7 separate regions of the Homo sapiens genome follow, and regions 1, 3, 4, 5, 6 and 7 are each reported to be linked to region 2. The links are microRNA targets in miRTarBase. Many come from high-throughput screens and were not tested one by one. Region 2 holds a microRNA gene; each other region holds the end of a gene's coding sequence.
What was found. Region 2 holds the annotated microRNA hsa-miR-503-5p (UAGCAGCGGGAACAGUUCUGCAG, at 2,104-2,126, shown strand). A microRNA usually pairs through its seed, bases 2 to 8, with sites in the 3' UTR of a target mRNA and lowers its output. Matches are read on the target gene's strand: a 7mer-m8 pairs with bases 2 to 8, a 7mer-A1 pairs with bases 2 to 7 and ends in A, and an 8mer does both.

Region 1 (4,081 bases), not on the chromosome of region 2:
CTTTAAAAAAAAAATCCAGCAGTGCAAATCTAATAGACTAAATACGTTCATCTCCTCCCAAACAGGCATTTGATTTGAAAACAGAAACCAGAACAGAGCATACACCACAAGGAAACATGGTACTTACAAATATTGTCAAATAATTCAGCAGAACTCTTTAAGAAAAAAAAAAGGTTCTTAGAAATTGAGAAAGCAGTAGAACCACCCAGCCTGGCAGATCAATCTACCAGATGTTCTGCATGCGAGAGGGCTCCCAACCACCTGTAACTTCAGAAAGGCCGCCAGGCACTATTACGAAGGAAACAGGTGCAGATCCTAACTGGAGATGACTTTATCACAAAGCCTTAAGACAAAGGGACCATCCTCTTCCAAGACAACAGGTGTGAACAGAGGCAAGGAGCGAGAGGAGAGGGCTCCCTCAGCAGATGGGTGGAAAGCAAGCCTGCCCTTGCACGGCCCTTGGCACACTCAATCTACCCCCTTTCCCTTCTCTGCCCCTGGCAAAGAAAGGCTGGGCAAGTGCAAGAGCCCAGAATGGCTCCTCCAGGCACATGGTTAAAGTAAGAGTAAGAGGAAAACAAGCCCCTTCTGGGTGAAATATGGCAACTTTTCTGAGACATGGCAACGAGGCAGAGTTAATCTCTTTGGCCCTCATCAGGTAAAGCAGCAACTAAGGAGCCTACTCAGGGCCTTACGTGGGCCCCTTCTATGTCCACAAGAAAGTGCATCCTTAGCTCAGTTCAACATTTAAAAAGAGCTAACGCTACTTGCAAAAGGCCCACCATGGATTCAAACACTTAATACCAAAGAGGTCCAGCAACTCGCGAGTCTGTCTGTGTTCTGTGATCTGAAGCAGAGCTAAGGGGGGCCTGGCTCACAGGGTCACGCTCTTCTGCCAAGGCGCCTCAGGGAGGGAAAAAAAGGCATGATGATGTCTGTGAGCCAGAACCTGCAGGAGGACCACCGGTAGAGATTCTAGAAGACAAAGAAGCCCTCAGGAGGCTCTGAGAGGTGTCCAATGTCTAAGAGACGGCCACCCCCTCCATCTCTAGCTTCGAGTCAACGCTGTTACAGTCACTCTCCGGAAACCAGCTCTTCCTTTATCCACCTGCACGGCCCCTGCCACAGTGAGGGAAAGATCTGGTCCCTCTGACAGTAAGGAAATTGTATAGAAATTATCCTGAGGAAAAAAAAAACCACTGTGACGCTACCTAAAAGAAAGAGTATTTCAATTTGCTTACACAGATTTAGTCAGTACACTCCAGACTGTAAGAAATGTATGAAGAGACTGCTTACGGAACTCAAAGACTAAACAGTGAATACTACTGTGGCCCAGACACGGATCGAAAACACTTCTCCCAGTGGCTTCTGGTGCTATGTCTGCTCTCCCGAGAGCGTCCAGCAAGGTCTTCCATGCAGACAGGGTGAGGAGCCACAGAGCTCAAGATTGTTGAAGCTGATTTAGTGAGCTCTGTAAAGCAATACTCAAACAGCTCCGTACGAAAAGGTGTCATTTACATTATTATTTATATATAGTATCTCGAAGTAAGGAAAAAAGCACCATTTTACTGAAAATAAAAAGGCTCACGCAGGCTTTGGTCCTCCTGAAATGACACCAGCCTGAGTGAGAAGCAGTTGGCCCTTGGGGAGCGGGGAGATGATGGAACGCTGTCACCGGCAAGAAGGGAGGCCAAGTGGCCCGGCAAGCCACAAGAATGGGGCAATAAGGGGAGCAGGTGGAGGGGCCTCGGAGAGCAGCCAGGCTAGTCTGGGGATGGAGCCACCTGCTCTGAGAGATCAAAAGTAGGTGTGCGGCACTGTCAGGACAAGTCTCTAGGACTGGGGCATTGGCAAACAAAAGGGGCAATGTCTGACCCGAGATGATGTTCTACTTAATGCATCTCATTTCCCCCAAAACCTGTCACCTGCAGACAGAGGCTTGGACAAGTAGCTCAGATGTACTCTTTTCCCCAGGAACTGCAGGCCGACAAGGACAGAAAAGCTGCAATGACTGCTCCTTTCTCAAGGGATGAAAAAACAGGCTGTTTCTTGGATGCTGCACTTCACAAATGTACTAATTGCCCCCAAAAAAGCAAAGAGTAGATTTTCCTGCCTAGATGCATCACTTGGCATTGACTACACCATGGAAAGCAAGAGTCTGTCTATGTGGGCTGGATTCCTGAACTACAGCTTAGAAGGGAAGGGCGTAGAATATCATCATTAACTGGCTCACAAGGAATAGTCATCTTGGGCGAACACATGCTAATACGTTTCACAGAATGAGGGGTGACAGCCTAGAATCCAAAATGTGATGTTTGGAACATTTCTCGCCAAACCTTACTATGAAAGCCTGCAACCAGTGAGAGGAGAACTGCAAAGACGGCAGCAGAGAAACAGCAAACAGCACAAAAGAGATAATTTACCAAGAGACTTTCCCTCCTTTCAGAGGCAACCAAGCCAGAAGGAGATGACAGAAGTTCACGTGTACAGAGAACAGAAGGGCTAAAACCAGAAGAAGGTGAGCTAATCATGAAAGCAATTTATCCCATTTTTGTTGTTCAATAACACTGGCCAACCTGCTAGGGTCAGATGTCTTCTTCAGAAAGGCAGCATCTCTGAACCTGGGATAAAGGACACTTGAACTGAATGCATGAGCAGAAGGACCCAATGGAGAAGCATAATTGAAATCATCCTTGGACTGCTTAAGAATTTCTTGAAAACTTCCAAAGAAAGAAGGTTATCTGGATCTGCAGCTATATGGCTGTATAACTATCTTCTACCTGGCTCCTCCTGGAAGAGGTCTTTGTCTGCTTGGGAGCTGGGGCTGTTGAGCGGCACAGCCCAGGCACAACCATGCCAGGCTGGGCCTCTAGGCCAAGCTCAGTGAGGGGTGCAGACAATCATCCAACCAGCAATGGAACTCCTTGGAGATGGGGGCCCAAAGGGCAAGACATTTAAACAGGAGTCACTGGGAGATACTCTGCTGCTCAACGAACACCACAGCAAGTGTGAGAGCTCCTTGCCCAAGACTGAGCAGCTCTTCCTCTCCCACCGTGCGTTCACAGGCAGCAGCAGCACGGCGGGAGGGAGCCCAGGAAAGGAAGCGTTGATGAGGTACCAAAAGAAGAACTGACATCTTTGGGTTCTTAAAACAAAAACTCAAATTGAGGAAGCGAGAGAATGAAAAAGGGAAAGAATTAAATCTGAATCAATGGACAGAAATATGTGGCTTACTAACCCACCCCCATTTTGCATACAATTTTATACAAAAAAGGAAAAAAAAAACACCCCAACTCATTGCAATGCAGTCCAAATGTTTGCAACCAAAGATGTATGAAAATATTTCAATTGAAACTGCTTTTTTTTTTTTTAAAAAAAACAAAGCTTTTGATCATTCCCTTGTCAACATAATTGGCAGATCTACTCTCAAACACACTTAAGAGTATTCCACACAACATGTTCGGAATTCAGATTTATTGATTTCCATCGTATTGACTTTAAAAATGGTATGAAGCTGACTGCAAGAAAGGGAACTGGTAATTTTAAGTTAAAATTAAGCTAATGGTGAAAGTACATCACCTCTGGCTTCAGTCACCACATCACCTCAGATTGAATATAGATTTTTTATGAACAAAGTTCCAGAACTCTGAAATCCAGGGATGCTGCAGGCCTCTCCCGGCAATGTCCTTCACTTTGGGTCAGTCTCCTGGGCCAGAGGTGAAAGTGCTTTCAAAAATACTGCCATTTCCCCAGCACAGTGTCTTTGATTGCATCCACATATTGAGTTGGAACCCAGTACACCCAGTAGTAAGAGGCTTCCGTGGGGCCCAACTGAAACGCCTGGAAGGGAAAAAGGAAAACCAAGCGGTACTTCAGAGGTCGGGAGACCAAGCAGGCAGGACAAACATGGGTGAGGGTTGGGATGTGAGTTAATTAAAAAGGGAAGAAAAACCAAACAAAACTTTGCACGTGGGGAGCATTCTCCCAACCAAAAACAAAAACAGGCAGGCTGAGGGTTAAGCTGAGCCAACCCTAAAGCAGCAGTTCTCAAACCTGAGTGGTCATCAGAGCCATCCGGGGG
Region 2 (4,081 bases):
GCCCCTTTGTAATCTCTTTTCGTAAGTAAATTTCAGTCTAAGGGGAAATATGTAAACTAGGGGATCGAGGTGGCTTTTTAGGGGTGTAACTCGTTGTACTATCACTGGGAGAGATGAAAGGGGTTAGGGTGAAAGGTATAAATGAATTTGATTCCAAGAGCAATCTGGAAGGGACCTTCGCCTTTGACACCGATGCTGTTTCGAATGAACTTTTGTTTTTCTAAGTAGTCAACTAAGGAAATGTTAAATTAGGCATGACTTTAACTTCTGACATGATGGCTCGTATATTTGTGTGGAACAAAATGTTGGGAGAAAGTTGTGGAGTTTTACATGATAATTGTACATTTGCTAAACATGTTTTTTTTTTCTTTTTAAGGGCAGTCAACGACATTTTTCTCCATTAATCCCAAAGTCAGTGTAAAAGTTGTTTGTAAATATCATTGCCAAAACAAGATGGAATGTAGAGATACTTGATTGTCGCAATTTAGGGAATGGGGTTATTGTTACTAATGACTTTTTTTTTTTACCATGACATAGTGTATTTGTTACCACTGGATCTCAGTCTGGATGTTATAAATTCGATACTTAATCTTATTAAATACTCTGCACATTTTATTAACTAATAAATAGGACACTTAACATTCATTGTACTGGTTTTGAAAAACCGACTTAATTTGTAAGTGTAACAAGATACTTACAGTTGGATAATTTAAATGTCTATTACTTGTGCTGAAATGTATTTAACTTTCAAAACCATTACAGTTAGTGCTGATTTTGTTGTTTTAACTTTTAGGTTTGTGATTGAGGATTTCAGAGTGGGTTTTTTTTTTAATGCTTAATTGAATATTGTATTCAAACAAAAAGAGGGCATGCATGTGACTTGTTGCTAATATGTGTCCATTTTAAAAAGGAAAAAGTGGTATCTAATGAGTTAATCATTAAGGAGTATGCGCAGTGCCGGCCATTTCAGGACATGAAAGTTTCTGTGGAGCTGCTTGAAACAGGAAGGAGCGACTTGACATCAAGTATTTAAACTTTTTGATTTATGTTTTGATAGATGACATTGATAGGTATAAATTATAAATAAGTTTGAGTAACCAGTTTAATATGTAAACTGGTATTTCATCTACAGAAAGTTCTCTGTCATTGTTTGGAGCTCTTTAAAATAACTCAGCTGGGGTGTTTAAGAATAAAAACACTAGCAGTGAGTTAGGACATCTAATGCTTTTAAAGATAGATGTATATGTCGCAACGATAGTGTAAGAATCAGCTGAAGCTACCGGTGAGGTTTTGGTTATTTTCTTTCAGTCATCTGAGTCCATTTCCAATAAAGGTTGTTTTTTTGTTTCGTTTTTTGTTTTTTTTTAATGGGGACAATGAATGAGACTTGTAATATGCAGCAGGAAGAAGTTTCACCAAGACTTTGAAACTGGCAAGAATGATCCAGATGTCCAATTGCCTCTACTTAACCTTATTCGTCTACCTTCAGAAGTAATTAGATTCTCTTCCACACTAATTCGTATCCCCCATCGCTCTGCTTTTCACCCACTACGTTGTTCCAAGATTCATCCTCAGGGGAAAAAATTGAGAGCCACACTTTCGGCTCCACCTGCAGCTCCTGGAAATCAAATGGTGAAGTTATAAGAAGTACCTTAACTTGGAGTGAAGTGGCCTAGTCATAAGTTTTGCCCTATTCCTTGCCAGGGGGTGGGGCGGGGCTTCCTTCAGTCATCCAGTCTTTATTCACCCGCAGGTACCCCCAGATCGATCCCCCTTCATTGACTCCGAGGGGATACAGCAGCAATTCATGTTTTGAAGTGTTCTAAATGGTTCAAAACGTGAGGCGCTGCTATACCCCCTCGTGGGGAAGGTAGAAGGTGGGGTCTGCCGGACGCGTGTTCCTGCCACCAGGTGCCCGCTCCCCGCGAGGCCGGCTCAGGAGCAGGTAGGTGGGCGGGGGCTCGCGTCTCTGTTTCCGGCGGGTCCTCGCCCTTGTCCACGCAGCAGGGCTGTAGTCCGGGGAGGGCAGTATTCCTGGCTAGGCTGGGGCGCATAGGCGGTGCGAGTCGAGGAGAGACGCGGTGCCCGCGCTCAGCCGTGCCCTAGCAGCGGGAACAGTTCTGCAGTGAGCGATCGGTGCTCTGGGGTATTGTTTCCGCTGCCAGGGTAAGTCTGGGACTGCCGTTCGGGCCTACCCAGCAGGTAAGTCTTAGGCCATCGCCTGCGGTGTCGGCCCCGGGAGCAGCGAGACCCAAGATTGCATCAAACGTTTGCCCCGTCTCTGCATATGTGACTGGACGTGAATGATGCTTCATTTTGGCACCCCCTTTCCCTGCTCAGGTAGAATGTAAACAATTGAAAAAAATCCCTTCCCAATCAGAATACCACCCACAGGACAACGAAGAAAACCTATCTTCAGTCCCCACCCACGAAATGCTGGGGGGTGGGGAGGACTGGAAAAGGAGTAAGGGGAGAGGAAGGGTGAGCAGCTGCAAGAAGTCTTTACACCTCTCTGCGGTTCCTGGTAAACGCGCTCATGTCCTGGGTATGGAAGGGACTTAAGAATTCAGGAAAGATCAAAATAACGGGCCTCTTCCCCACTCCCTCGCCCTCCCTTCCCCGCTGCTGGGGGGTTAGGGAGGCTCCGTGGAGCTCCAGCACTCTAGAAGGATCGGGTGAGGCGCGAGGCCTTGCGGGCGGGTGAACCCAAGGTGGGGTGGAAGGCTCCAACCCGCCCAATCTGAGCCCGAGGCCTGCTGAGAAGCATGGGGGCCTTGGGATAGTTCCAGAATGAGGATGTGCGTTTCTAGCTGCTTTGCGCCCTCCTCCCCCAAAAATCTGCTACCACAATTCCAACCCGGCGGCACGCCCCCAAGACTCCTTTGTCGCCCCAGGGGCGGGACCTGAGCTGTCGATTTCAGGAGCCCTTCGTGACTTCAAAAGTCCTGGGCACTGTTGCTCATGAGTGCTGCACAACTGTCGCCCTCTAAAGCCACCTCCATCCCTCACTGGGCTGGCCTCCTGAGCCTTCGGTGAGGAAACGGGGTTCCGAGTTGCCCGCCTGAGAGCTTAACAGTCTGACTAGAAAAGGGCTAATTCGCTTTCTGTGCAAATCTCTTGAGCTAATTATTTAATCTGAAACATGGACAGGTAAAGGACCATTGGCGGGCGTGGGGAGGGAGGTGTGGAATCTTTCCCACACTTTTTGTCACCTTAAAGAAAAAAAAAAGACACCCAAACTCCTCTGGTCTGAATGGGCTGCCTGGAACTGGGCTTCCCGGGGCCAGGAGTGGGCCCCTAGAAGTTTCCCAGTTTGGGGTGGGGCCGGGGTTCCGAAGTCTAGAGCTGGGAGTCGGGTTCAGCGGCCCGAGACGCTGGCTCTCCCAGACTCCCTTGCGCCGGGGCAGTGCGCGGGGGCGGCTCGGGTCCCTCCCGGGCCGGCGGGGACCCTCAGGCTCCCGGGGCGCCGCCCACCAGCCCGACCCGGCGGCCTAGAAATCCCCATTCTGCTCCCGCCTCGCCCCGGCCGGCCAGCGCAGGGCCCCTCAGGCCCGCAATCTCCAGGCTCAAACGGCGAACAGGTCCCCGCATCCGCCTGCCTTTGCACTTGGGGGTGGGAGAGCCACCTTGTGACGCCCCTTCTGCCTCTCACCAGCTTCCCCCTTTCTCCCCGTCCTGTACGGTTCCCCCTGGAGCCAGAAGGAAGCCCGGTGCCAGCCAGCCTTCCTGAAAGACCAAGCCCGCGCCATCCGGCTTCCTCCAGTGGACGCCTGCAGGACCCAGGTGAGACACGGAACCGGTTGGGGACGCGAGCCAGGGATCCTGACCGGTTGGGGGCGGCGAGCAAGGGATCCTGACTTGGGGGCGTTGCCTCCCGGAATCCAAGCGGCCTTTTGCCCGGGTCTCCCGAGATGCATCGAAATTGAGCTCGTCCACACAGCCCCCTGACTGCGTGATGCCCTTTTCTGACTTAAAACATTCCTTGTACCTTTATTTACACGATCCAAGTTGCAGTGTGCCTAGATTTTCCTCCAAGGACAAAAATGTGAATAAAGCAATATTTTAGCCAAACATTTCTGTG
Region 3 (4,081 bases), not on the chromosome of region 2:
TCCATCCAATTAGTATGGGAAAATGGCTAGTGGTTCAGAAACTTTTTAAAAGGAGTTAGTTTCAGAGTTTAAAAATTTGTTTTTTCCAGGTCATTAAATTTGACGGTGGAGAGGAAGTACTTATTTCAGGGGAATTCAACGACCTGAGAAAGGTAATGCTTTTGTGTGTATAATGTAATATCAGCAGCTAGGATACTAAGCTTTAAAAACATGTAAAAAGGACATTAAATTGACATCTTTTTTGTGTTAGGTCACCAAGGAGCAGTGGGACACCATAGAAGAACTCATCAGGAAGACAAAAGGTTCCTAAGACCACTTTGGCCTTCATCTTGGTTACAGAAAAGGGAATAGAAATGAAACAAATTATCTCTCATCTTTTGACTATTTCAAGTCTAATAAATTCTTAATTAACAAACATTCATTGAATATGTATTATGTGCCAGGCCAGTGATAGCCATTGTATATTCAAAGATAAATAAAATGAAATATAGTCCTTCAAAACATTAAAAAAAAAAAAAGGAGGCATGGGGAGAGTAGGTAAAGGCTCCTCTTTACCTATTGATAGAGGTAAAAAGTACTTAGAAGTGCAGAGAGAACAGATCTTTGTGACTTGGAAAATCAGGAGAAACTCAATGGTGGCGGTAGCATTTGAGTTACATAATATACTATACCTATATTAATAGGGCCTAAAAGAAAGAAATTAGAGGATACACACTAAATATAATAGACTTTGCCTTTCCAGTATACTTTCTTTTCACTGGACTTGTGAATTATCTTCTTTGGGTAACTCAGTATTAACTCAAACCTTTAATTTTTACTAGGACCTATTTGTAGCCAGGCATTTTATTTAGTACTGAATAAGCTATAGCCGTTGCCCTTTTTAAATTCATTATCTAGCAAGATAGTCAAACTTATAAATAATTATTTATGATACATTGTGATAAGTATTATTCCAGCAGTATTTAAGTGTAGAGGAGGAAGTAATTCATTCTGTCTCCAGAGTTTGGAGAATGTGATGCCTAAGAGATAGCATGCCATCCCAGCTGTAAAAGAAGAATAGATTTCTCTGGGTAAAAGAGGTAAAGAAAGCCTATAAAATATTTTTGTATATCATTTGATTAAATTTCATCTTTGGTTTGACTAATTTGTCATCCTGAAAATCAAATAATAATGAATCCAAAGTCTCAAGTCTACAGAGCTATACTTTTGAGCCTATATTTTTAAAATGTCCATTTTGCTTTCCCAGGAGTCAGTTACAACATGTTCACTAGACTGACTATCCCCATTGCCCAAGTTGACACAAGAGGAAACCAGCTTCCATCTTACCTCATCTGAATAAATCTGCCACAAGCCCATGGAAACCCCAATTAACATTGACAGTTAATTGTGTACATAAATTACATTTATTACATTTAATTGTGTATATATAGGGGATGTTATAGGTTTGGAATAAGTGGCCCAACATTTCCAATTATACTGACTTTCACTGGGCTTTTTTTTAGGCTGTTGCACTTTTTCTCCACATGCTTGCAATACAATACTCTCAAAATAAAACGCAGACAGGTACCTAGTCTCCATTTTACCTTTAGTACTAATCCTGTGTATTAGTCTGTTCTCATGCTGCTAATAAAGACATAACCCAAACTGGGTAATTTATAAAAGAAAGAGGTTTCATTGACTCATAGTTCAGCATGGCTAGGGAGGCCTCACAATCATGGCAGAAGGTGAGTGAGGAGCAAAGTCATGTCTTACGTGGTGGCACCCAAGAGAGCTTGTGCAGGGGAACTCCCATTTATAAAACCATCAGATCTCGTGAGACTTATTCACTATCACACTATTGTGTTGATATTGTGTTCACACACCAATAATGATGGTTTATCACTCACTCCATTTCCAAACCCACCTTCCCACCCACCTCTCACCAAACACACAAAGACACACTCTTTCCCTCCACTGATTCCACCAGTATAGCCATATTTCTCTTTCTGGTTAAATTTATACTAAATGTTTACATTTATATAACTTAATAAATATTATTTTTTTCCAGTGTTGTCTCAACCTTTTTTAAAAAAAAAATTCAGATTACATGATAAATCAGGTCCTTTTTTAGATAAATATTATTTTTAGTGTTCTATTGTTTTGATGTATCATTATTTAATTTATTGGGAATAGGGTTATTTATATTTATTGTTTTTATCTTTTTAAATTTTTATAGAGACAATGTCTTGCTATCTTTATCAGTCTGGTCTTGAACTTCAGATCTCAAGTGATCCTCCTGCGTTGGCCTCCCAAAGTGCTGGGGTTACAGGCATGAGCCACTGAGCCTGGCTGTTGAAAATTTTTTGTTTTTTAATGTTTTTCAAGAATGCTAATGCCTCCCTTGCCAATGCATTTTAAAATTATTATTAATATTACTTTTGATTGGCAAATCATAATTGAATTCATTTATGGGGTGCCCTGTACATTTAAGGGGTACAGTGTGATGTTTTGATATGTGTATACAATGTGGAATGATTAAATCAAGCTAATTAACATATCTATCACCTCTCTTACCTATTGGCCTTTATGGAGAGACATTTGAAATTTACTTTTATTAGTTATTTTTAAATATACAGTACATTATTATTGACTATAGTCACCCTGCAGTAGATCTTAAAACCTGTTCTTTCTATCTGAAATTTTGTATGCTTTGATCAGAAACCCCCTTCTTCCCACTCCCTCAACCTCTAGTAAACCATCGGTCTACTTTCTTTTCTTTTCTTTTTTTTTTTTTTTTGATATGGTGTCTCACTCTTGTTGCCCAAACTGGAGTGCAGTGGCATGATCTTGGCTCACCGCAGCCTCCACCTCCCGGGTTCAAGCGATTCTCCTGCCTCAGCCTCCTGAGTAGCTGGGATTATAGGTGCACGTCACCATGCCCGGCTAATTTTTCGTAGTTTTAGTAGAAACAAGGTTTCACCATGTTAGCCAGGCTGGTCTCGAACTCCTGACCTCAGGTGATCCGCCTGCCTAGGCCTCCCAAAGTGCTGGGATTACAGGCGTGAGCCACCGTGCCCGGCCAATCATCATTCTACTTTCTACTTCCATGAGTTCAACTTTATTTGATGCCATACATAAGTGAGATCACAGGTTACTTTTATTTTTCAGTATTATAAATAAAACTATGAACGTTTTTATGTATAACACATTTTTAGAATTTGGAATTTTTTCCTCATTTCTAGAAGTGGTATTATTAATCAAAGTTATGAAGCTTTTAAAGTTTTTTTGATATACATATCCAATTGTTATTCCAAAGATTTGTGTGAGTTTAAACCCCCCTGAGTAATGTGTGACACTGCCCGTTTCAACAAATAGCTGCCAACAATTAAAACTATTCACCAATTTTACACGTAACGAATGATAGTACCGTTAAAAACTTATTTTATTATTAGTGAGATTGAATACTTTTCTACACTTTTGAATTTCCTGTTTGTCTTTTTTACCTGTTGGTATCTTAATGGGGTATTGTAAAATTTTTGGTTTGTATGAGTTTGTATGCAATTTTTTCCTCTGTTAAAGACAAAAATAGTTCTTTTAATAGTTTCTTAGTCATCTATTACATCATTATTATGTGTTATTACAAATGGTTGATGAGAAAGCAAAGCTTGCAGCATGGCAGAGAGGATCAGAGAAGAGAGATCATGGAGATATTGACTAACAGATATTTTTTCCTGAGTCTGAAAGAGAAACAAACATTGTTTATGGGTAATCACTGTATTCTATGACAGACCACATGTGGGCTGTAACCACATCAATGTTCACCTTAAGAATTATTACTTTGTCACTCAATACCTTCTGTAAGAGTCCTGCTTCTATTGTACTAGTGGAAGAGTTAATACTCAGTAAATTAAAGATTATTGGTAACAATATCACTCATCTTACCATTAACATGTGAAACCACCTCCAGGAAATGTTTCAGGTATAGAGTGACAGCCATTGTTTCCTTATTGTTCTTGTGGAAACTAAAACAATAAGAATTTAATGACTTTGAATAATAGAATTTTAGAGCTAGAAAAGCCTTAGAAAATGCAAATTCTCAATG
Region 4 (4,000 bases), not on the chromosome of region 2:
ACATTGTAGATCCAAATGAGGTAGGTTTTAAAAATCAACAATAAAAGATGTAACATCTAATGCAATTATTTTAGTAAAAATGAACATTTTGTATTCTAAAGATAGACTCAACATAATAAGTGATAACAGAGGAAACTTAAGAACCTTTAACCTGTTTTTTCCCCCCCCCTTCAAGAATGTTGAAGGTATCCACCTTTCCTGGGAACCTCCAACCTCACCTTCTGGAAATATTTTGGAATATTCAGCCTACTTGGCTATCCGCACAGCACAGATACAAGATAATCCAAGTCAACTTGTGTTCATGAGGATTTATTGTGGTCTTAAGACATCATGTATAGTAACTGCTGGGCAACTTGCAAATGCACATATTGATTATACATCCAGGCCTGCCATTGTGTTCAGGATATCAGCAAAGAATGAAAAGGGATATGGACCAGCTACACAAGTTCGGTGGCTTCAAGGTAACAATAAGAAAGCACCTTTAAATTGAATTGGTTTTTTTACTGAAGCTATTGTGATGATGATTATTTATTAGTAACTGGTTATGAAGATTTGTCATTTAAAAGAGTATTCTCTGGCTGTATTTCCAGCAGTTATGAACTTGAGTTTGTAAATTGTTCTTAAAATGTATTTGCTGAATTATAGATCCAAATAAAAGAAAAGAAGCAAAGACTCTCTGAAAATTAGTATATGAGTTCTTCCTTACAGATATAGCTCTTTTATAAAGAAAAACAGTGAAATTAAGATAAAAGCTAGAAAGCTTTATTACCCCAATATCTTTTATAAGGGCTGTGTAACCCAGTCATCCTAGAGTTATTGAGATGATTCTGGTAACTGGCTGTTGTATACTATGCTGTCTTATATAGTAAATGTTCTCTACATTGTAAATGTCCTACCTTTGAGTACTCCTTCTATCTTTATTCTATATGAGCAGTGTTCCTCTAACAACTGTCTTCTATTGGATAATATGTGTGATACTATAATAATTCTAATAGTTATTTGATTCCTTTCTTTGTTTACAGTTAGCACAGAGCTTAAGAAATTAAAAAAGAGGCAAGTTTAGAAACTGCTTTTGAACTTTTATTATTTTCCAAGAATCATGGTAAAATACAACAAGAACAATGAGTTTTCTTGATTCTTACCAGGCCAATATATTTGAATATATTTTTGGCCAAAGCACTTAACTTATCTGGCCCTCATTTTCCTCATAACAGATGAGGGAGTTAAAGCAGTTTATCTTTTAGGTCCCTTTCAGCACTAAGGTTTTGTGTTTTTAGTAGAAGTGAAGTATGTCCCTGAACATTTTCATCTGTCTTAATGGCTCTAATTTTGCTTTTGCTAAAATTAAAATCTTCATAATTGAATTCAAAATTAAAGTATATGTCCTCCTATTGGAGAAAAAAACAAGCACCTTAACAGGACACAAGTTTTAAAATAGTGTTTTAAACATTTGTAAGATTTTTGTAAATGCTCTAAATGTTTTATTTTTGCATTGTTTTTACCTTGAAATTGTATAAACTTTTTTACTATGAAAATATAAGCATTAGACAGCTAACTCAGGTTCCATTACAACCTTAAAGATACAGATAGGCATTATAAACACTCTGCTACAGGTAACTTGTTTTAAACCTTTTAGGAATTTCATGGTTCCACTGCCTATTTAAATCTGGAATTAATATACAGAGCAATAATTGCAGAAAAGATATTTCAAACTAAGAGCTTCAATAACTGCAGGGGCACAGGTCTATCTTTTTTTATACCACATAACCTTATGCCAGTTTAGGTTGACTGAGTAGCTATGTCCTCAAATTTCATGTATGATACCCCCCAGCAAAGATGGATTTAATTGTGCAGAATTGATATATATGTGTGTTCCAGTTACTAATTTAAAGTGTATAGAATATTTTAATATATAATTTTTGTAAAGAACTGGGATTTTTATACTACAGTATTTGTAATTAATGTGTCTCACTAATTAAGTTTCTCTTGAAGAAAATATGCAAATTGTTAGACACATAATGAGTGGTTTCCAAACTCTAAAGATAAAATAAATGCACTACTATGGTGTTGTTAGAATACCTTTTTTGTGGCTGTATGAATCTTTACTCTTTAAATGTGTACTTTACAATGTTTACAAGGAGCTTCTCTGGTTTGTTATCCCAGCAATGCCCTTGGTGAGAGCTTCATTCTGCATTTGTTTAATTCATATGCTTTGCTTTTGGCATATGCTTGCTTTTTGCACTAGTAGAATTTTAACTTACCTCATTATTATGTTTGTAATCATTTGTCTAGCTTCTGTAATGTATCTGATATAGGCTAAACAAATACTTAACCAAAGTTAAAATACATGGTAAGCAATTTTGCACATATTAAATATTAGGGTTTGTTGTGTATATGTGTATACTTAATTATAAAAGAATATGAATGGAAAGTTATACTAAAAGTATATGTTTCAAGCCCAGTTATTTTAAAGATCTATTGCTTTAATAGAAAAAGTTTGGCTTTTAACCCTTTCTTCTCTGCATTAATTAACAACGTGCATCTTGAAGCCCTTCTCCTGATAACAAGGAATAAGTTGATTTTAAGCAAAGGATAGAATATTTGTTTGAGTGTGCACATTTATACCTGTTTAGTATTTGATTCAGTTAAGCCTCCACTCTTCTGGATCAGGAGGTGATTCTGAACCTGTGGTTCTAACATATGACTTAACTGTTTAGAGGGAAGAGAAGTCTTTCTATACTGAGGGATTTGTTAAAATCATAAATGTTTTTGCCCTGAGACTTAGCCCAGATTCTATTTTTTTTTTTTTTTTGGCATTTGTACATTAAGCACCAGTCATATTTATCTCTGTGATAAGGGATTGCTGACTAAAAAATGCCATTAAGAAATCTCTGTGGCTTTGACATTAGTAGTTAATAAGAGATCTTAGAGCTGTGTGCTGATGAATAGAATGAATTGGAGCAAATAGCAAGAGAAGTGCATTTAGCTTCTTATGATTTGCACATTTTCTAAATGAAGATCCCTTTGTGTAGCAGTAGGCTGTATCATGCAGATATTTTTCATAGGATTTGCACTGAGTTAAATGACTTTCTTTACTCTTCCCAGTCAGGTAAGCAGTTCAAATATAACAAGACTTTGTGCCAGTCCTCTTCTGTGTTCTGCAACTCTGGCTCTCATAAGTAGTAAAAATATTTTTGATGTTGCATGCTCTCAGAATTATGTTTTCTAAAATATCATATTGGCTTCATTTTAGTTTAATAAACTTCTTTGGCAACTTAATTAGACATAGGGTATATATAAACTCAATTTTATCTGCATTTTTTAAAAAATTGAAATAATCTGATTGCATGTATGAAGGACTCCTGCCTCATTACCCAATTACATAAATACAATTATCTATAGGAAGGTGAAATTGTTGATCTATTATTTCAAAGACTTGTAGACTAGCAAAGATTCATTCTGATTAGAAATAAGGTCTATAGCTAAAGATATTTTTATTTTAAAAAATTACAGCCCTTGTAACAAAAATCATTTGTAACATTGGATATGAAGACATTATTAGTATTTAAAATTATTGTAGTCATTTGATCATAAATGAAGTAGCTTGCAAAATAGACTTGGTCTTTGACCCTTTAAGGTGTAACTGACTGACTGTTGTGTTTTTCAAGACTGATTTTAGGCAGTTTTATGTATCGTGTACCAATGATATGTAAAATAAAGCACCTTTTCTACTATAAACAATTACAGGTGTTATTTATTTTGAAGGATATGAAAGAAAAGTTAGTGATGGCAGAGTAAATCTGTAGAAATGTTGATTTTATATTTAAAATAACATTATGTAAACATATTAAACATATATTAACATGTTTAATAATTAATATTTAATAATTAACAAGTTTAATAATTGTTAAACATATATTTAAAAGGCTGCCTGTATTGTTTGAAATAATATAGGCAGCCTTTAAATTAAGAATGGATTGTGTTTAAAAACTTGTTTTTA
Region 5 (4,081 bases), not on the chromosome of region 2:
ACATATTCGGCTGGGTATGGTGGCTCACACCCGTAATTCCAGCATTTTGAGAGGCTGAAGCAGGCAGATTGCTTGAGCCCAGGAGTTCAAGACCACCCTGGGCCACATGGTGAAGCACCATCTCTACAAAAAATGTAGAAATTAATGGGGCATGGTGGTGCACGCCTGTGGTCTTATCTACTCACAAGGCTGAGGTGGGAGGATTGCTTGAGCCCAGGAGCCAGAGACCGCAGTGAGCCATTATCACACCACTGCATTTCAGCCGGGGCCACAAGTGAGACCGTGTCTCAAAAAAGAAAATGAGTATTGTTTACAGCAAGAACTGAAAATTGTTTTTAATCCTGTTAGTAGCATTAGAGAGATTAAGATACATTAACATATTTTGTCATTGGAATTCAGTGAAATACTGAAATGTTTTAAGAAAAATATATTTTTATTCTTTATAAAGTAGAAGCATGTTAATTGCTAAATACTTTCATTTTGAAATTGTGGAGTATTTATTATAGTTTTATTTTTACAGCTTTGCAAAAAACTGGGTGGCTCATGTGTTACAGCCCTGGATGGTTATTATGTGGAGTCCATTATTTGTGTTTTCATTGGATTTGGTTGGTGGTTCTTTCTTGGTCCAAAATTTAAAAAGTTACAGGATGAAGGATCATCTTCGTGGAAATGCAAAAGGAACAATTAATATATATGCTACTGGACATTCTAGCAAGGTAATTGTAGTTTAGTTTTAATTCGGAGAGCAATGATAATCAGTGCACAGGAGTATAAAATATTATTTTAAACAGCGAAATTAATAATATAAAATGCCAAATGGTTGAAAAAATAGAAACCTTTCTGTATATTTGATCATATTTTTTTTTTGCCTTGTCAATGTATTTAAAGTTTACTTAAGGTCAGGAAATTCTAAAACAACTTTTCTGGCCTTGTTATTTGATGTATATCTTTTAAATTTACTGACCAAAGCATGTTTTAAGCTGCAATGCAGTAGTCACGGGTGGTAACCATGTAGTCAGGTATTGTTATTAGTACCTATCACTGCTGAGCTGTATTTAAAATTTTGGTACAATATATAAAATGGAGAAGAGCTTGATATTCAGGTACTAACCACAACTAGTCTGACATTGTTGGCAGTTAAAATCTTATTTTGAATTGTAAATTAGTTAAATTTTATGTGGAATTTGCTGAGAAAAGAATATAGACTACTGAAATGTCATTTTAGTTATTTTTCTTATGACCACATTGTACAAATGAATCTGTGTTAAAAAGACTATTTTAAATGTATTTCCTGCTTTTGTAAGCATTAAAGATTTATAAGAAAATTATTCAAACTATTTTTTATAAAATGAAAGTTATGATTTTTAAACTTATTGATTCCTCTTGCCCCTACCCCCTCTTTTTGGAAGATATTTTGATTCCTTATAAACTTTTACCCTAAGCTTATATATGTTTTCTGTCACAAGTGCTTCCTGGCACACAGACAGCCAATGGAGGGGATCAAATTCAGTGTTGTATGTATGTTTATGGCAACATTTTGAAAATAAAAATTAAATGTTTTTCTTCAAGTAGTTTTTTTTTAATTGCTGAGAGAAAAAAACAGTAAAGCTTTCTGATTAAGTAAAATTTAAATGGGCAGTACCATAATTTAAAAAACTAATACTTTAAAGAGAGAGACAAAGATATTTTGTGCCTTTGACAAATTAAATCTAATAGTGGAAAAATGTTTCTTAATTAAGCACTTTACTAGTGAAAAAGATCTCACAATTTATGCCAAATCAGGTACTGTATTTTCATGTATTAACACATAACCTTTTGTTTGAATACTATAGTTTTCAGTGGACAGTTGCTATTCCAAGAAAATTAAGCTTTTGAGTACTTTAGCAATTCCCAGCGTATTACATACACCCAGTGATAAGGTTCTTTGCATGTTTTGTGTTATGTATTACTCTGACTCTTTAGAGATTATATAAATCCTCCAAAAGTTAGACGAAACAAGATAGTACATTATGAGTCTTAATTTTATCATTGTGGAAAAATGTGTACTAACTCCTGATTTTGTTAATTTTATAACATAGGTTGAATTTTAGAGTGGGGTTTTTATAAGTAATGGAGGATAAAATGGGTGGGAGAAAATGGCACACAGCACCTGAAGAAAGATGGGGCAGTGACCTCTAGAACTCATGCATTGCCATTGGAAAGCCTGTGTTGGGCATCGATGTCAGATCCTGAAGAATCACCTGGAAAAAATCCCATCCTAGAGGCAAGGAGGCTACACCAAACCATACACTACAGTACTTTGTCACATGGTTGTCCATTATCATGTATTAGAGTCTAAATGATTACTTGAATAAAGAAAAAAAACCACTTAACTCTTACATATGAAATGTGTTTTGATTTTTAATTTTTGGATTAAGAAACTCAGATTGCCATAATAACCTTTTATTTCTTCCCGTGTATATTATTACAAATTATATATACTTTCAAACATAGTTTTTTTTTTTTTTAATTGAGACAGAGTCTCACTTTGTCACCCAGGCTGGAGTACAGTGGTGCAATCTCGGCTCACTGCAACCTCTGCCTCCTGGGTTCAAGTGATTCTCCTGCCCCAGTCCTCTGAGTAGCTGGGACTACAGGCGCACACCACCACACCCGGCTAATTTTTGTATTTTTAGTAGAGATGGGGTTTCACCATGTTGGCCAGGCTGGTCTTGAACTCCTGACCTCAAGTGATCCACCCGCCTCGGCCTCCCAAAGTGCTGGGATTACAGGCATGAGCCACTGCGCCCAGCCTTCAAACATAGTTTTAATGTCAGTACATCTTTAATGACTTGAAGTTTTAAAACATTTTAAGCCTTTAAGGTGAAAGCCATTTAATTAATTTGCTCTAGAAATAAGCACAAAAAATTATAGTTAATTTGAATACATGTATGTAATGCATGTCAAAATAACTTGTTAATAGCTATGTGCAACTGTGTTGCATACATTGATCACTAATGGCATTTAAAAATGATCTGCCTAAATCTGAGGATCTGTTTATTATAAATCAGTAGTACTAAAATATACCACCCTGTTTTTATGTTGTGGGTGTTTTTCTTGATTGATTGATCCTGATAAATTAAACAGTACCTTCAAGTATGGACTTTTAACTCCTCCAGTTAATGCATCATATGTTTACTGGCTAATATTAGATTGAACATTTTTCTCTCTATGTCAGTATCTCCATATGCACATTGGTTGCCGCATATATACATCTGAGTTTGAAAAGTTCTTCTGAGATTACCTAAAAGTAACACCACAGATTCCTTCCATTGTAAATACTTTATTTTATTTTATTATTATTTTTTAGAGACATGGTCTCACTTTTGCCCAAGCTGGAGTACAGTGATGCAATCATAGCTCACTGCAGCCTCAAATTCCTAGGCTCAAGGGATCTTCCTTAGGCTGGATGCTGTGGCTCACACCTGTAATCACAACACTTTAGGAGGCCAAGGCAGGAGGATCACTTGAGGTCAAGAGTTCAAGACCAACCTGGTCAATATAATAAGAACCTGTCTTTATGACTTCTTTTTTTTTTTTAATTATCCAGGCATGGTGGTACACACCAGTAGTCCCAGCTACTTGGGAAGCTTAGGCGGGAGGGTTACTTGAACCCAGGAGGTCAAGGCTTCAGTAAGCAGTGATTGTGGTACTACATTCCTGTCTGGGTGACAGAGTGAGACCCTGTCTCAACAACAAAAAAGGATCTTTCCACCTCAGCCTCTCTGGTAGCTAGGACTACAGGCACACAGCACTATGCCCAGCTAATAAAAAATAATAATTTTTTATAGAGGTGGGGTCCGCTATATTTTCCAGGCTAGTCCCAATCTCATAGCTTCAAGCAGTCGTCCAGCCTTGACCTCTCAAAATGCTGGGATTACAGGTGTAAGCCACCGTGCCCTGCCCATGATAAATATTTTAATTTTGCCTGATAAGTCATAAAAAGTTTATTCAACACCTTAAATAGATTTCTCAATTTTTTAAAAATATTAAACCTTTGAAATCGAAAGTAATTTTTGGATTTCACCCCTTTATTGCAAGG
Region 6 (4,081 bases), not on the chromosome of region 2:
TAATGCCAAGTGCATCACAGAGGAACATAAGACTCACACATTGGGATTTTGTTTACTTTTCATTTATTCACATTTCATGGATTGTTACACTTCCTCGATGGGAGCATTCAAAAACTAATACAAGCTGAGATTATATTGTCTGACAATTCAAGTATTTTAGTTTTAGAAAACAATTTCCTATTTAAAGTAAAAAGCAAACAATTTATCCATCTGATTGCTAAGAAGTTTTACATCTCCATTACAATTGTGTCTGCATCAAACGGAGAGTCCTTCGTCCTCAGTATGATTGTTACTGGCTGAGAACATACGGTGACCTGTGTTCTGAGTGCCTGCTTGGAAAAGACCTCCCTGTCATCTGCCATACTACGGGACAAATCAGTATCTACTCAAATTCCCACTTCCAGAATGAGAGGACTCATCAGGGGTTTAGGAGTTTGCAAAGCCTTCAAAATGTATCGTGCTTGAATTTTGACTCTTCTGAAATAGAATAACTGACAAATGCTCAAAAAACAAACTTGTTTAACTTTTACTGAAAAGGCTCTCAGTGAAAACTTGTTTTGAACTCTACTAGTAAGGTAGAATATTAGTTTTTCTTCCCCTCCACACCAGAAAAGGCAGTTTTCTCTTTTTTTTTTTTTTGGCATGCAGCATATATAAAATGTGATCTAGAATTGAAATTGTAAAACAGAATAATCCTCTTAAAGAAAATCAGCCTATGAACAGTCAGACTTGTCCTTCCATGGAAAACATAATCTAAACTTCTTTAAAAACTGGCCATATTTTTTCAGTCTGTAATTCGAATAATGAAGATGGCATAACAAATTTTTTTGCTTACTAGGAATGCGCAAAAGGATGAGATGGATACACAGGTTTTAAAAAAAAAAAAAAAAAGGCCACTGGGATATTTAGTATTTGTCCAGATGCAAAACAATTTCAGAATAACAAAATACACACCTTGCTTTAGGCCACGTATATGATACACTTCATAGATTCTCAAACAAAAGATGAAAATTTCAGTCCACATTAAACATTTTAAAGCATAACTTCTAATATTTTGTTAAAAATAAGTCAAACTAAACGCATAAATCAGAATTACCTGTTAACATAGTGGGGAAAGTAGGGAAGCCCTCCAGGGGCCCCGTGCCCCAAGTAAAAGACAAGGAGTTAAATTTTACAATGAAATCCACGTATACTCAGGCTCTTTACACTAATAATCAAAGTGGAGACCAACCAGTTCCTAAAGCATAAAAGAGTGATTTTAAGAAAATATCACATTTTGAGTTACGGTATATTCATCACATTTTTCCCTGTAATTTTCACTTTAACAGTGATAGTCTTAGCAGCAAAAATTTGCTGGGAATGTTAGGAAAAAAGGAAGCCACACATACCTACTAATTTAAAAATATATAAACTATTTTTTACAGAAGGGCAGGTTTAAAAGAAAATCCAATCATGATCTTTTCATGCCATTTTTTGTCAACTTTCCATACACACGCAGACGCTAACAAAGTACTGTGTCATATACACTGAAGTGTCCTGAAGATGCCTGTGAGCTGCTGATTCCAGCTGGTACCAGGGAAGCATGTGTGGCTAAGTTGCAACAAACTTAAATTTGTTCCCCTTAGTTCTTCATCTTTTTAAAAGCTGAATAAACTTAATGTCAATCGGGTGGGGCCGGTATTAACAGCATCAACCGCTTGCTTACTATGAATCATCCGCAACAGAAACCCACGTGCATTCTCCATTCTTAAAAAGTCAGTGTAAAACTAACGGCCACTTCCTCCCTAGGTGCCTACTATCGCTATGTCTGACAGCATCTGTAACAGGACAAGCTCACCTCTCTCTACACGGATTCATCCAAAGCCACACACTAGGCCAAATTCTCCCAGTGGAATCAAAACACTGGAAGTAGAGCAAGAACCTCATGCCAACATTGGCCCAATCACACCTCAGTGACTTAGGAGTTCATCATATTTGATCATAAAATTGCTCCCGGCGCCAAACCTTACACCTAAAGACTGTAGTTTTAAAAAGCCACTGTACCGTCCACAATTATTCTGACCACTCTTTTCTAAATGGAGAATGTGCTACGCACTGAAGATCAGAACACACACGCGGGAGCCCTTGGGCACTGACCCTGAGCCTGTACACAAGATCAGCTGGTACTAGTCTCAAATGATTCATGAGGACTCAGTGGAAATTTAAACATTCAATTCTGTGTATCATTCATGTGCCCAGAGTCTTCAAAGAATGCTCGTGTTAGTTACCTGACACCTCTGGAGAAGTGACAGGGATATTCGTGTGAATAACCATGGCTCCCTTCCAGACAGACATATGGAATCTTACTCTTAAAAAAGTAAAGATATTTCAGATATCAAATGTATTATAATATACTGCGGTCTAAAGTTAAAGGCAAAGTTTACACACGATTTTCTCTTCCATGACTTTATTACATGTTTCCTAGTGAATTCACACGGCTCGTGTGTCAAAGCTCCCAGGCACGTCACTTGGTCACAGTTTTCATGTGCGTGGGGTTGATCATGGTACAAATGCCTATGCGCATCTTTTTCTCGGATGGTCTCATTTGACTTTCATTTCGTAAGGGTTCACTCTCCATGGTGTAGATGATAAGCTACCACATTTGTGCTTTTAAACCCATTCCTGGCAATCCCCCTTTATCTTCATTTTGTCTTTAGGGGGATAAAGAAGTAACACTACCTCATGAATAGAAACTATGAAGCCAAAAAACTCCTTCACAAGCTGTTCATTTCTTTTTAGAATGAAAATGCAGGTCCTGAATTCTCGTGAAGCAGCCCACAGGGTTACAGGCCAATGATTCGAACGCTGAGGTGAACACTTAGTACTCGCATTTGAGCTTCAAAGTAAAAATAAAGCAGAGGACAAACGCCTGTCACAGCGTGGCAGCCCGGTTCATTTGGTAACAGAACAAGTCTCACACGTCGGCTGAGCCCACCGGAGAGAAGCACACAGGCCAGCTTCCTTCTGAACACAGCCAGGCACCTGTTCAAAAGCCTCTCTCGTGGTGGCGGTGGACCCCAAAACCCACGGGTTGGAAGAGCCTTTGGGAAAGCAAATTGATACCCTGATTGCAGTCCTTGAAGAAATCACTTAGGGTTAGTTTAATAAACGAACATTAAAAAATCTTCCAAAAATTGCATTCAAATGTATTTTACACTTTAGGCAGTTCTTAAGAAGGGAGAGTGCAGTTTCTTGACACTTAACATTTAAAGGTTTTATTGGCCACATTAATCTTCCTCACAAAAGTTTTAAGTTATCTATAAGTTCTTAGAATGTCAAAGAAGAGAAGAAAAACTGACTAACTTTAAGGGGCGGTGGAAGCAGCAGCAACTTGGCAATAATTCTGCAGCCGACTTTGCGTGTTCAGGCATCCTTTTTCTCCAGTAAAATTTTGTGCAACTCGTCTGCATCCTCGCTGGTTTTTACCCGAATCAACATGGTGACTGGCATGGTGGCATTCTTCTCGTCAATTGGTGGATTTGGAACACAGACGATAAGAACGTTATTCTTCCCTGTTCGCGTACATGGCATATTGGGTGGAATCAGAACGTTCAGCAATATGTTGCCTGCATTCAAACAAACAAAACCCATCAAAATTATAGAAGCTATAGCTCCACCAAAGGAGTCTGTAATATGCTAAACATTAAATGCTGAAATAACTTAATACATCTAAGACAGGGAGCCAACAGGACAGCACAAAATCAGGACTGGTTCCCTGAGAACTGGGAGGCCTCGGGGAGCACTTGCCCTCACTGTGAGGAGTGGCCTTCCGTCCTCCCTCCAGCCCGGGTCTCTGCACCCACACAGCGTTTCTCTCAGAGCCAGCAGCCTCGCTCAGAACCGTCAGCCCTCTCAACACTGTCCGTCTTTGCACTGAAGGAAGAACACGGTGGCACAACCCAGTGTCTTCACTGCGCCACACGGACAAAGGACACCTCTGTCACAGGCCGGCACAGCTCCCTGGGCAAAAGTGACACGACCATGTTATTACTCCCTAGTCAAGCCCACGGGAAAGAAAAATGCCTCCCTGGAGTTTCTGCAA
Region 7 (4,068 bases), not on the chromosome of region 2:
CCGATTTCAGTTTATTTTTATCAGAGCATGTTCCCTTACAGTCCCCAGGCTAACATGCAGCCCCAAAAAAAGCACTATTTGATTCAGTGAACTGTTGACTGCCAGTCACTGATCCGGAAGTGTCTGTTTCTAGAACTCAGTGTTTAGCCACTGCCACACCATTCAGGGGCTGCTGCCCTCTTGTGGAAATGAAGAATACGACTGCTTAGAAAAGAAATTAGATGCATTTGGAGGCTATTGTCTGTACACACATTCCCATCTTACCTTCCCCTAAAAGCTTAACATTTTAGTGTGAGCCCTAAGCTTAACTTTTTAGTGTGAGCCCTGAAGTTCCTAGGTCCAGACAGTCAGGGCCTTTGGTTTACATTCACGCTACCATTCTGTCCACCAGGATATGGAACTTTAGCCACAATACAAAATCCTGGTTTCTAGCGAGATTGACATTTGTGAAGACCATTTTGATGTGTGGAGTGGCCTTTGGATGTTAACATTGTGCTGTGGGAAGAGCACTAGCCCACGCTTAAAGACCCAGGTTCCAGCTCGTGTTCTGCCATTCCCTTGTGACCCTGGACGAGTCATTTTCCAGTTGCATCTGTGGATAAAGGGCTACATGACCACTGGTACCTGGAACGCTGTAATTTATTGGATTTAGAAAATGCTCTAGGAGTTTAGAGATGAAATTCTGTGGAGAACAGTGGCATATCACATGTGCACTACTTGTAGCTGCTAACCACAGCAAACAGCCACGGGCTTGATTCTAGGTTAGGCACCCTCAGGCTCCTACAAAGGAGACCTAGGCATTGTTCATGTGTGCCTCAGCCTCAGGGATAGCCATGGTCAGATGCTTTGCTTTTCCCTTAAGTAGAAATGTGGCAGACTGTTCAGGGAGGGTCCCACAATTCCTAGCCTTCACACGTGTCTGAAAAACACTTACTAAGTTTTCTGGACGAGTTTTGCCACTAGCTCAGGATACAAAGCTCTGTGACCCATTAGTGACTGGAAGTGATTTCTCATTGTTTCCAAATATCAGTCACCCGCTCCTTGTTACCACTGCAGGGCTTCATATGGAGGAGGGGGCAGCTGGGGACACCACAAGGTTTGCCTGAGTGTGAGGCAGGTGTTCAACCCCAAACTGGAAAAATGGCTTGAAATAAAACTACAGTTGGTAGCTGAGTAAGGAACATGACTGTTTCATTTTAAAAAAACCCACTTCCTTCTTAAGTTTTCCCACAAAGGATAATTTTCCCTCAAGAACTGCCTTGCCAAGTATTTCTTGTTGTAGTCTCTAAATGCTATTTTAAATGTAGTCTGGGGAACTATTTTCCGTTGGCTCCTAATACTGAATTAAGCTAACTTGCCCTTATGATAGTAACAAAAAATTTCAAGAGCAGAGGATGCTTTGTTGACCTCAGACGATTTGTACCCTCACACTTGCTGAAAATAAAACATCTTAGCGAGGTATTTATGACATTAGTCTGAAAACATTTTTTCACTTACATGAAATCTTACACAATGAAGTGGCAGTCAACTGCAAGAATAAATGCCGAATGAGTCATTTTAGTTAGCCTGACCTTTGAGGACACTTGGCTTCGTAGCAGGTCTTTTCATTAGGTCTTATTCTGGTATAAAAAGGCTCCTTCAGAAAATGTTTTCACTAAAAAATAAGTTACAAACTAACAAGAGTGCTATATAACCAACAATTCCTAAGTATTATGTAACAGTAATAAGGCAAATTCATCTTAAAAAAGGTTTACTAGTAACAGTGGCCTGCTATGGACCAGGCACTGTCCTAGTGTTTTACACACAAAAATCTCCAGTCCTTACAACAACCCTAAAAGGCATACAAGCAGACAAGCAGACTCGAATTTGTTGAATGATTAAGCAAGGCCATATAGTACTGGTAGAATCCGAAAGAGAACTCAGGTCTACCCAGTTCTTCTTATGATTAAGCTTTTTCCTCTCCATCTCCTGAAAGCTGCCTTGAACTGGAGTGGGGAGAAATGGGAGGCTCCATGACAGCATGCCCTGTGCTTTCACCAGGTTTCTATATATACAGGACATCCATGTGAGATTTTATGTGAAACAGGTTTTGGCTTGCTTCAAGCTGTATTTCACTATTTAGCACCCTCTTTTGCTCACAGCAGATGGGCTCTAGAGGTCCTGACTAGGCCTGAAATGAGGAACGCTGGGGAGCACCTGTAGGAATGCTCAGCCCTGGATCAAACTACAGCATGCTGTAAGGGACAGTACCAAAAAGAATGACAAGGGCAGTGTGGAAGCCATGTCCCTGCAACACAAGGGCTGGTTCCCAATCCTGGTTATGATGCTCAGAGCTGTGAATTGAAGAGATGTGTGATTACATATTTGCTTGTTGCTTTCCTCGTTAGAAGATAGAGAGTCACTTTAGTTAAGGTCCATTTAATTTAACATTTATTTTCATTTTATATCCAGATGTCACATTTTCTACATTAAAATATAATCATGCTGACTCCCCCAACCCCCAGCCCTCAGAGAAAAAAGTGAAGAACTTTACACAACATGAAAGATGGAATGCACGGGGTAGGGAAGTTGCTATTGCACCCAAGTAACAAAGAACACAGAGAGACCAACAGGACGCATGGCAGAACTGCATAGAAGATCGCTCAGGGCTCACGTCAGGAAGGCGCAGGAATTCAGAAAACTCTAAAGCTTGGAAATGCTATCGTTTGTGCCACAAAGATTACCCTGAAAAGGTAGAGAGAGGTCAAAAAGCAGAACCAAATTGGGGATTTTCAAAGGCTGCTCTCTAACAGAGTTTAAAATATCCGTAAACATAAGTGCTTCTGCTCCCTCCCCTTGCCTTCAGCATCTGGTAAACACTTTAGAAACTTAAACCACTGTTAGCATGTCAGAATGTAGAAAGGCTGTAGGTTTTTCTTTCTTCTCATCTTGTACCCCAAACAACAACTCTACTGGCAATTGTAATCATGTGACTCCTCTGCTTGGAAACCCAGTAAGGATCACCAAGACAAGGGGTCTCACTGCTACCAGACAGATACCAGCTGTGCAAAAAGTTGCAGGATTCTGTGTATTATTTGGAGAGGGAGAGCTGTAAGACACAGGAATCCCAATACGTAAGTACTAAAGAGAAAAAGAAAACTCCTTTCACTCATCTATTCATTATATAGGAAAGAGCAAAAAGACAGTCAAAACCATCTGCTTCGAGCAGCAGCACAGCCCAGCAATACAGGCATACCAACAAACCGAAAGCAAACACTCAGGAAAGAGCCTCTTGGCCCTTCTCAAAGGAGACTTCTCTCAGACTGGATCTTGCCCCTAATGTAGAGACCAAAGCATTATAACTTCAGAGACTGGTACTCTTGAGGGAGTTGAGAGGTAAGGTCTAAGAGACCCAAATAACAAGACTGTTATCAGGTAACTAACTACTCCACTATGTACAATACATACAGCAATAAGAAAACGCCACTCCATCCCTGCAGCACTTTAAACATAGCACTGAGGACCCAGGTAGGGGGATATTTTAAGGTCTGTTAGCAGTTTAAAACGTTGCAACACTGGCACAATATGTTACCTATTCTTTGTTTTTAATTACAGGGTAACATGGTAAACTCCAACACAAAGGTGGGAACCGAGAGTGCAAAAGGAATAAAGAAAACAGAACCAGTATTTCACAAGAGCGCGGAGCAATGCAGAAGCAGCAGCTAATGCTTTGCAGAGTCTCGAGGGTAAAATTCGCTGAGGGTGCTCTGAGGGATTCTCTTCAGCATTTCTTTGGGGAAGATTCGGAGTAGCTGCCAGCCAATGTCCAAAGTCTCAAAGACAGTGCGATTTTCGTAAGGACCTTAAAAAATTGAGATTGAATTAATAAATGCAAATGACTTCCAACTTAGCAGTGTTATCCAGTATGTATTGTTATATGACTAGCAGTGTATTAAATAGATATTGAAAAAAAAAAGTTGGGACTCCCAAGACTAAATGAGAAGGACTGAGGAAAAGAAGGCACAGACAGTGAGTATCATAAGGAACCAGAGAAGAGGGAAGAGGCGGCTGGGCTGAGACAGGGAGCAG

Region 1: the mRNA of UBFD1 is a reported target of hsa-miR-503-5p. The part of its 3' UTR that is shown has no 7-base or 8-base seed match.
Region 3: miRTarBase lists DECR1 as a target of hsa-miR-503-5p. Seed matches in the 3' UTR shown: 7mer-A1 at 1,620-1,626.
Region 4: miRTarBase lists HCFC2 as a target of hsa-miR-503-5p. The part of its 3' UTR that is shown has no 7-base or 8-base seed match.
Region 5: miRTarBase lists SLC33A1 as a target of hsa-miR-503-5p. The part of its 3' UTR that is shown has no 7-base or 8-base seed match.
Region 6: miRTarBase lists NUP50 as a target of hsa-miR-503-5p. Seed matches in the 3' UTR shown: 7mer-A1 at 1,338-1,344.
Region 7: the mRNA of ATP6V1B2 is a reported target of hsa-miR-503-5p. The part of its 3' UTR that is shown has no 7-base or 8-base seed match.

What each region holds. Positions count from the first base shown.
Region 1 is chr16:23,570,239-23,574,319 of GRCh38, reverse strand. It overlaps UBFD1 (ubiquitin family domain containing 1), which reads right to left. Exons shown (of 7, transcript NM_019116.3): 7 at 1-3,840. The coding sequence ends at 3,730. Among named protein-coding and RNA genes, the nearest start is that of UBFD1, 15 kb to the right of the region's middle.
Region 2 is chrX:134,544,416-134,548,496 of GRCh38, reverse strand. It overlaps MIR503 (microRNA 503), which reads left to right and starts at 2,099; the gene lies at 2,099-2,169. It overlaps MIR503HG (MIR503 host gene), which reads left to right and starts at 1,867. Exons shown (of 3, transcript NR_024607.1): 1 at 1,867-1,945; 2 at 3,700-3,783. It overlaps MIR424 (microRNA 424), which reads left to right and starts at 1,786; the gene lies at 1,786-1,883.
Region 3 is chr8:90,051,588-90,055,668 of GRCh38, forward strand. DECR1 (2,4-dienoyl-CoA reductase 1) reads left to right here. Exons shown (of 10, transcript NM_001359.2): 9 at 90-152; 10 at 251-2,046. The coding sequence ends at 310. Among named protein-coding and RNA genes, the nearest start is that of CALB1, 29 kb to the right of the region's middle.
Region 4 is chr12:104,102,784-104,106,783 of GRCh38, forward strand. It overlaps HCFC2 (host cell factor C2), which reads left to right. Exons shown (of 15, transcript NM_013320.3): 15 at 176-3,741. The coding sequence ends at 490. Among named protein-coding and RNA genes, the nearest start is that of NFYB, 33 kb to the right of the region's middle.
Region 5 is chr3:155,824,817-155,828,897 of GRCh38, reverse strand. It overlaps SLC33A1 (solute carrier family 33 member 1), which reads left to right. Exons shown (of 6, transcript NM_004733.4): 6 at 521-4,081. The coding sequence ends at 688. Among named protein-coding and RNA genes, the nearest start is that of C3orf33, 21 kb to the right of the region's middle.
Region 6 is chr22:45,183,977-45,188,057 of GRCh38, reverse strand. NUP50 (nucleoporin 50) reads right to left here. Exons shown (of 8, transcript NM_007172.4): 8 at 41-3,605. The coding sequence ends at 3,403. The region is part of intron 3 of LOC105373064 (a long non-coding RNA gene); the gene reads left to right. Among named protein-coding and RNA genes, the nearest start is that of MIR1249, 15 kb to the left of the region's middle.
Region 7 is chr8:20,220,036-20,224,103 of GRCh38, reverse strand. ATP6V1B2 (ATPase H+ transporting V1 subunit B2) reads right to left here. Exons shown (of 14, transcript NM_001693.4): 14 at 2,408-3,841. The coding sequence ends at 3,702. Among named protein-coding and RNA genes, the nearest start is that of ATP6V1B2, 25 kb to the right of the region's middle.